Linked DNA regions of Homo sapiens: regions 1 and 2 are each linked to region 3. Evidence: fine-mapped expression QTL. A gene starts in region 3. Each other region holds a variant in brackets. All regions are shown on one strand. Distances are from middle to middle.

Evidence for each region.
Region 1: its variant is fine-mapped to the expression of GRAP2 in whole blood (TOPMed, PIP above 0.99).
Region 2: its variant is fine-mapped to the expression of GRAP2 in whole blood (TOPMed, PIP 0.94).

The regions. Positions count from the first base shown.
Region 1 is chr22:39,976,138-39,978,902 of GRCh38, forward strand. No RefSeq gene overlaps it. Among named protein-coding and RNA genes, the nearest start is that of TMA7B, 17 kb to the left of the region's middle. The variant G/T (reference allele first, on the strand shown) is at 1,156.
Region 2 is chr22:39,919,652-39,922,416 of GRCh38, forward strand. All of the region lies in intron 1 of GRAP2 (GRB2 related adaptor protein 2), which reads left to right. Among named protein-coding and RNA genes, the nearest start is that of GRAP2, 20 kb to the left of the region's middle. RefSeq lists an enhancer at 1,427-1,476. The variant C/A (reference allele first, on the strand shown) is at 1,471.
Region 3 is chr22:39,899,682-39,902,446 of GRCh38, forward strand. It overlaps GRAP2 (GRB2 related adaptor protein 2), which reads left to right and starts at 1,403. Exons shown (of 8, transcript NM_004810.4): 1 at 1,403-1,649.

The DNA.
Region 1 (2,765 bases), 76 kb after region 3:
GAGATTGGGGAAGAGGTAGAGGGGAGAATGGCCAGCCTGTGCCCAATTCTGAGAGGCACTGCTTGGACCCTGGCTCCCTCAGCATCTTCCATGAGCACAGCTGGCTCTCTTCTCAGCCGAGCCCTCCCTCCATCAGACAGAACAAGGGATACCAACCCTTCCCTCCGTCTCTCTCTTCTCACTCTTCCCTGTTGCCTCTTTCTCCTTGAGCTCAAAAGAAGGGGAATGTACCTACATGCCATCGTTAGCTCACAGCTAACCTGAAACACAACAGCCCACACTGGGGACTGATTAGCATGGTCAAAATATTTGCTGTTTTCTCAGTCTAAAGTCAACACTTCAGCCTGTCCATACCAAGGCAAGGGTGTCCTCTGCACCACACCATTTGTGCAGTAGATACTACCTAGAAGCCTAGTAGCTGTGCACTCACTTCTATTGTTTTAAGTTTTGCTGTAATTCATTCATTAAGTCAACAAATATTTACAAAGCACCTCTTCAGGGTCAGACACAATCAGCCATCGGGTCCTTCACATTCTCTCAACTCTGTCCCTTCTCTGCACCCATTCCACAGCCACTGCCTTACTTCAAACCTCTCTCACTTCTTTCCCTGATGACTGCAATAGTCTCAGCACTCGTCTCCCTGCCTTTCTGGCTGGCCCCCTGTAATACAGCCTCCAACGCAGTCAGGGAGATCTTATTCGCAGACAGGCTGATGATACCAAGCTCCTGCTCAAATCTTTGGGTTCTCCATAGTCTTCAGGCTGGAGTTTAACCTCCTTAGCTTCGCACTAAAGGCCTTTTGTGATCTGCCTGCTGCCTTGTTCGTTCAGCCACATCTTCTACCTCTCCAGTCCCAAACACTCTTTACTTCAGTCCCTTAGAACTATCTGTGGTTCCCAGAATGAGGCATGTTTTCTAAGACCTCTGGTCTCCTACATTCTGTTCTTTTTGCCTGGAATGCTTTCTCCCACTGTTTTGTCTAGACAAGGGCTGTCTATTAGGACTTTCTGTGATGAGGGAAAAGCTCTGTATCTGCTCCATCCAATGTGGTAGCCACTAGCCACTAGCCACATGTGGCTATTGAATACTTGAAATATGCCTGGTATAAATGACTGAAATTGCCACATGTGGCAAAGAGCTGCCTTATAGGGCAGC[G/T]TGGGTCCAGACAACTGTTACTTACTTTGAAATCATTAGCTCAGGGCTCCAGGTCTCCACTGGGAAACCATCCCAATATTATGGTTGATGTAAGTGCCCCCGTTCCCCCACCCCCACTTATGTTCCTGTAGTAACCTTGTTCTCCCTCTATCCCAATACTCAGAACACCATTGTCAGTGATTCACTGATCTGCCTCCTCTGCTAGACCAAATCTTTTTTAGGTCAAAGATATGCAGTGCAGTCAATAAATGGTTGATGCCTAGATGCAGTGACGTGCTGGTAAAGATTTAATAATTGGCTCTCTCTAAGAAGAAGCCCTAACTTGTGGTATTTGCCAATTCTATGGTGTAAACACTCCCACCATATGCCAAGAGAATGAGAAGACAAGTCACAGACCAGGAGAAAATATGTACAGAAGACATATCTGATAAAGGACTATGATACACAAAGAACTCTTAAAACTCAACAATAGGCAGGGCACAGTGGCTCACGCCTGTAATCCCAGCACTTTGGGAGGCCGAGGCAGGTGGATCATGAGGTCAGGAGTTTGAGACCAGCCTGGCCAAGATGGTGAAATCCCGTCTCTACTAAAAATACAAAAATTAGCCGGGTTTGGTGGCGGGCACCTGTAATCCCAGCTACTTGGGAGGCTGATGCAGGAAAATTGTTTGAACCCGGGAGGTGGAGGTTGCAGTGAGCCAAGTTCCTGCCACTTCGCTCTAGCCTGGGCAACAGAGCAAGACTCCATCTCAAAAAAAGAAAGAAAGAAAGAAAGAAAGTAAGAAACAAAAAAAACCAACAACAACAACAAAAAAACTCCACAATTAGAAGATGAACAACCCAATTTAAAAATGGGCAAAAGACATGGACAGCTCATGGAAGAAGATATAGATGGCAAGTGAGGAGATAAAAAGATGCTCAATATCATATGTCATTAGGAAAATACAAATTAAAACAATGAAATATCACCACACACCTATAAGAATGCCCCATATCTATAATACTGACAACACCATATGCTGGTGATGATGTGAAACAACAGGAACTCTCATTCATTGATGGTGGGAAGGCAAAATGGTACAGCTACTTTGGAAGAGAGTTCGACGGTTTCTTGCAAAACTAAACTTACGCTGGTCATAGGATCCAGCATTCACACTCCTTGGTATTTACTGAAAGGTGCTGAAAACATCCACACAAAGACCTGGACATGGATATTTATAGTGGCTTTATTCATAATTGCCAAAACTTAGAAGAAACCAAAATGTCCTACAATAGGTGAATGAATAAATAAACTGTGGTACCTCCAGACAATAGAATAGTATTTAGAAAGAAATAAGCTACCAAGCTATGAAAGATGAAAACCCTTAAATGCATATTATTATTATTATTATTATTATTATTATTATTATTAAGATGGAGTTTCACTCTGTCACCCAGGCTGGAGTGCAGTGGTGTAATCTCAGCTCACTGCAACCTCCACCTCCCTGGTTCAAGCAAATCTCCTGCCTCTGCCTCCCAAGTAGCTGGGATTACAGGCGCCCGTCACCACGCTTGGCTGAATTTTTTTTTTTTTTTTAGTAGAGACGGGGTTTCACCATGTTGGCCAGACT
Region 2 (2,765 bases), 20 kb after region 3:
TTGAATTACAGGTTACTGAGAAGTCAGAACAGATAGCCATAGAAGTACCCCACTAAATCCATTCTTCTATCTCCTTCAATATTTGACAAATATTTACTAAGCATCTATCTTGAGCAAGCATTGGAGTAAGTCCTCCCATAAATATGAAGTTGTGTAAATAAGGATGCATGCATTCATGTAAATACAAGTTTAATGCTGGATATATATTGTTTTAAGTGCCTGATATGTATTAGTCTATTTATTCCTATCTAAGGGGATAAGTGCCATTGTTGTTTCCATCTTAAAGATGAGGAAACTGAGGCCAGAGAGATTATACGAACTCCTAAAACCCTAACTCTTAACCACAGCATTCAGAATCTATCTGGTTGTAGTGGAGGACCCAATGTCAAAAAAGCAAGTGCTTTTCCCAGACCATGAACACAATGTGTGACAAATTAGCAGTTCTTCCCCTTGCCCTAAGATAGTAAATATCCACCCAGGCCAACTTGTGTCTGTCAGAGAACAAAGAGTGGGCTTGTCACACTGTTTTCTCCCAAGAGGGTCCATCTGCCTCCGCTCCTTTGGTACACGCTAGGGGACACACACTGTCCAGCATATTCTTGCAGAGTCATATCTTACCCCACATCTTATCACAACCCTGCTGAATGTCAGGCACTATCAAGAAAATGTTCACTCATCTTCTTCCCGTTATGCCCAATGTGTGAACTGATAACACATCTAAATTCAAAGAAAATCAACAGACATCACCTCAATCAACCTGAAAAGTCTGGTGACTCATTCCCACCCTTCTCACGGGGCTCCTGCTGGGCTGCCTGGTTCTCCGGAACCAGCCTCCAGGCCTCCTGCAGCCGGGGTGCAGCTCAGTGTTCGAGCCCCCTCTCTGCTGCCCATCAGATGAGTGTTGACTTTCTTTGGCACAGGCATTTGAGTTGCATTTGAATTGCAGAACATGCTGCCCCCATTCTGTGCTGACTGTGACCCCACTTCATGTGCCCCAGAGGCAGGCTAAACAAGCTTGCCTTGGAAAAAATAACAGGGAAGAAGATGCTGACTCTCCAACCCCCAGAGTAAGTTCCGTCACTCTGGAGGTAAAGTCATAATATCTAAATATGGCTCGATTCATGTCAGGTCTTATAAATACACACACACACGTGGATGCTGAAACCGTGCATGCCCTGACAGCCAAAAAAAAAGTCAAAACGACTTACTGTCTCATTAGCAGGACAAGACCTGATAGGCCAGCTCACCAGAATAAAGAATACAAAAAATGGGTATTTAACTTCTCTACACAGACACACACACACACACACACACACACACACACACACACACACACACAATCTGATGTAACGACCTCAAGAGAGCTGGTTGCCCTGGCAATGAAGAATCGTTTGTATATTCAAGGATTTTCTTGTTTAAATTTAAGCTAGCCACTTGAACTTCTCGAGCTTTCTTGAGCTTAGCTTCAGG[C/A]CTCCATCCCCAGACAGAGGTCTGACATCTATGTCAGCCTCTAGCAAGGCAGGAAGCTTAGAAGTCGGACCAAAACCTCACAAGCCAGCCAGCCTGGATTTGAATTTCAGCTCTATGGTTTCTCAGCTGTGTGACCTGGGTTAGCTGCTTAACCACCTTGAACCTCTATTTCCTCACCTGTACAATGGGAATAATAAAATTAAAACAAACTTGCATGGGTTCATTATGAAAATTAGATTGATTGATGACATAATACATAGCAAGCATTTAGAGCTGTGCCTGATTCCGAATGTGAGTTATCTGTAATAGTGACTTGAAATGGGTTTACACTGCCTGGCAGGAAACCATTCAATTCCTTTTTGTTTTTGACTTTAATCTTTGAAGCGCTTTCATCTCATTTCTTCTTATTTTGTGTTTGTGGAGAAGGAGGATGTTTAGCCATCCTTGGAGTACAATCTTTTATTAAAAACCATTATTAAGTCTCTTCAAGTTTCTCTTTTGTAGTAAATGATCTAGATTACTTAATGGTTCTGTTTTACATGTTTTAATCATTTATTTGAACCATCTCCAGATGTAGTACACACAGAAATATTGTCTAGGAAAATGTGTTACTGAAATTCCTTATCATCTGTGGTCCATTAGCTCAAATGTTTAAAACCCATTGTTTTTATTTTTATTATTTATTTATTTAGTTATTTTTGCAAGACAGGGTCTCACTCTTTTGCCCAGGCTAGAGTGCAGTGGCACAATTATAGTTCATTGCAGGCTCGAACTCCTGGGCTCAAGCAATCCTCCAGCCTAAGCCTCCCCAAAACTTCTTATTCTTAAGAGCAAAGTTGAGTTCCATCATATTGTCAGTTGGTTTCACTCCATCATATTGCCAAAACCACCTAATTCTCAGATGCATAGTTTAGCACAAGCCAAACCAGAAGAGACCATAGGTCATTCATTCATTATTCATTCAACATTTACTAAGTGACTGCTGTATGCCAGAGGCTGGGCTATGCTGTAAAGTCACAAAGAAGATACTTCTCAGTTGGGAGAGCTTACAGCTTGAGAGAGAAGACACACAAGCAAACAAATCATTACAAATGCCTTTCCATTGGGTGCCATACTTGAAATGAGAAGATGAGGCCAGGGTACCCTTGGGGCAGAAGGGAGGGAGGATTAAGCTCAGGGAACAGCTTTACAGAGAAGGTAACATTTGCACCATATTAAAGGATGGCAAGAATTGAGGAGTACAAAAAGGAGAATAGTCCAAGAAGAAACACTCAGGGATGATTTGCACATTGTAA
Region 3 (2,765 bases):
TGTTATTAAGGAGCTACAGGGCCGGGTGCGGTGGCTCATGCCTGTAATCCCAGCACTTTGGGAGGTTGAGGCGGGCGGATCATCTGAGTTCAGGAGTTCAAGACCAGCCTGGCCGACATGGTGAAACCCCATCTCTACTAAAAATACAAAAAAAATTAGCCAGGCATGGTGGCAGGTACCTGTAATCCCAGCTACTTGGGAGGCTGAAGCAAGAGAATCACTTGTACTCGGGAGACGGAGGTTGCAGTGAGCCAAGATCATGCCATTGCACTCCAGCCTGGGCAAGAAGAGTGAAACTCCGTCTCAAAAAAAAAAAGGAGTTATGGATAGAAAATTACTTCCTTTAACTCATTCGACAAATATTTACTGAGCATTTTCTGTCACCTTGACACTTTGCTGATTCTTCTTTTCTATTTCAATAAAAATGTTGGGCAATTATAACCAAGGAAAAGGTTTTAAGAAAGTAAATTTTAAGCAAGGTTTAGATATAAAGAAGCAAAGAGATGGAAAAGGATGCCGTTTCACATTGCAGAAAAAGTTTAAATTTTAGAACCCCAAATTGAATCTCTCCTTGACACTCTCCTCTTGGTATTCCAGGGATTAATGCTAGGAACATCCCAGTGAGCCAACATTTCCCTCCTCATCTTGGATCCAGTCCCCAAACTCTGAATGGTGCCACTTAGCAAGTAGCAATGTCTCTAATTTTCTGTAAAAGATGCAACGTTGGCAATCCATTTTCTAGCAAGAGCAAAGAGAAAGGAAGAGGCCTTCACAAGTTGCAGTTGATATAGGGGGAAGGGTGAGTGGTACATTTAAAGGTAAGAACTAAGGAAGTTGAAGGTAACAAAACTCAAGGTCAATGGAAAGTCTTAAATCCCAGAAAGCCTTCAGTCTAAGACTCAACAGAAATTGAAGTCCCAGAAATTGAAGGAACTGGTTCCACCTCATGCTGGACTGTGGCAAACCTGGGGTGAGAATGCATCCCAGCTCAGAATGTTTCTTCTTTTTTTGTCAAGAGTAATATTAGAGGCTGAGTGTATGAACAAAGCATCTTTCCTGGGATTTTAACATTGTGAGTGATCGAGGGTGCTCTTAAATAAGTTCCCCCAAGAAGCCCTAATGTTCCTCTGGATGCATGATTATACTAAGAGAATAAGAGTTTTCCTTAAGATCAGCTTGCTGATGGACCATATCAAGAACTATAAATTTTCTTATGTGAACACAAGTGTTCAGGGGGGATATTGTTAAAACTGAAACCAAGCATAAAGAAGCAAAAGTGTTTCAGTGAACCTCCTGCATTTTAGTTCAACTCTGGCAGCAAGAAAACAAAACCACATAATCTAAGGCTCACGCCCAACTCTCCGAAGCCCCATATGTGCTAGTTCCTGTGTGGTTTGCCTACAGACTGCAGGGCTGACTAGGGTTAGTTTGGAGGAGGGAGTAAGAGGTGGGGAGGAGGAGGCACAGTTAATGGATCTGTAAACTTGCACCCTCTTTCAGAGTGGTACATGGAAGACAGCACAAAGTGGATCCATACTCTGAAATGCAGTAACTCTGATGCTTGAATTTGTCTCCCTTCTTGCCAGAAAGGATTCTAATAACTCGGTGTCAAAGCCAAGACATAAACTCAACCCCTTCTCTTCCAAAAGGTATGTCATTATACAACATCTGTACATATACTCTAGAAACTTTGAACAGTTTTATAATTTGCAGAATGTTCTGTATGAGTTAATTAAAATGAATCTCACTAGTTCTCTAAATATTGCTTTTAAGTCCCATCAGCTAAGGTCTCTAAACCTTTTGCTGTGACAATGTTTGTGGTGATGGGATTTGACTTCTATCAAATGAACTGGGAGAACACTTGTTCCTTACCCAGTCCATAACACAAAAATCTCCACAAACTGGCTTCAGAAGCATCTCAGGGAAAGATTTTCGACCTTGGGATCATGGAGGTAAAATTCCACTTCACCATGGTCAGAATTTAATCCAAATTGGAAGGGATTGGAGGGGGTGGTAGAGGGCTGAGCAGTGATGAATGAACACTAGCACTCTGAGGTCAGGATTTCTCTCTTTGCTTGAATTTCTAGTTCTGTTCGCATTTTTGTTACCTGTACAAAGGACACCAGTTTTCATTCCTTTACGAAAAGAAAACTTTATGTTGAAGTGTATTTTGGAAGGGTATTGTCTCTCTTCGTACTAGCCGTTAGGCTCCATCCCTATGACTGTCTCTGGTTTAGGCGTCCAGTCTGAAGATAGCTGCTTTGTGTTCTTTGTCCCAACTCTTCCTGAACGTGAGGATTGAACATACCAACCAAAGGTTTCACTAATTTAAAATGTACTGTATTGCCCTGACAGGTATACTGTCAAAAAAAATTTACCGTATTTATCTACCTGGAATTAGGCCTTCTTAATAAAGTGTATGCAGCATAATTTGCACACTATTGAACATACACATCCCTAGATAAACTAGGAGTGGGAAGTGTTTTAGATCTAAACATCCAATGGGAAAAATTTCGTGTGTTCTCGTTATGTTATCTGAGGATGGGAAACTTCAGGTCGCAGAATCTTTTGTTCTATGCAGCAATGTTTGTCATAAACGGTTTAGTTCTTTAGTGGCTCCTTTTTGTTTCTTATTTTTGGTTTCGGAAAGAGTATTTAGCAGAAGTTACTCTCCTTTAACAATCCAGTATTTTATGTAAAACTTTATAGAATAATTTTATAGTGATTCTCTTTACAAAACCATCTGCTATTAAATAAGGAACACT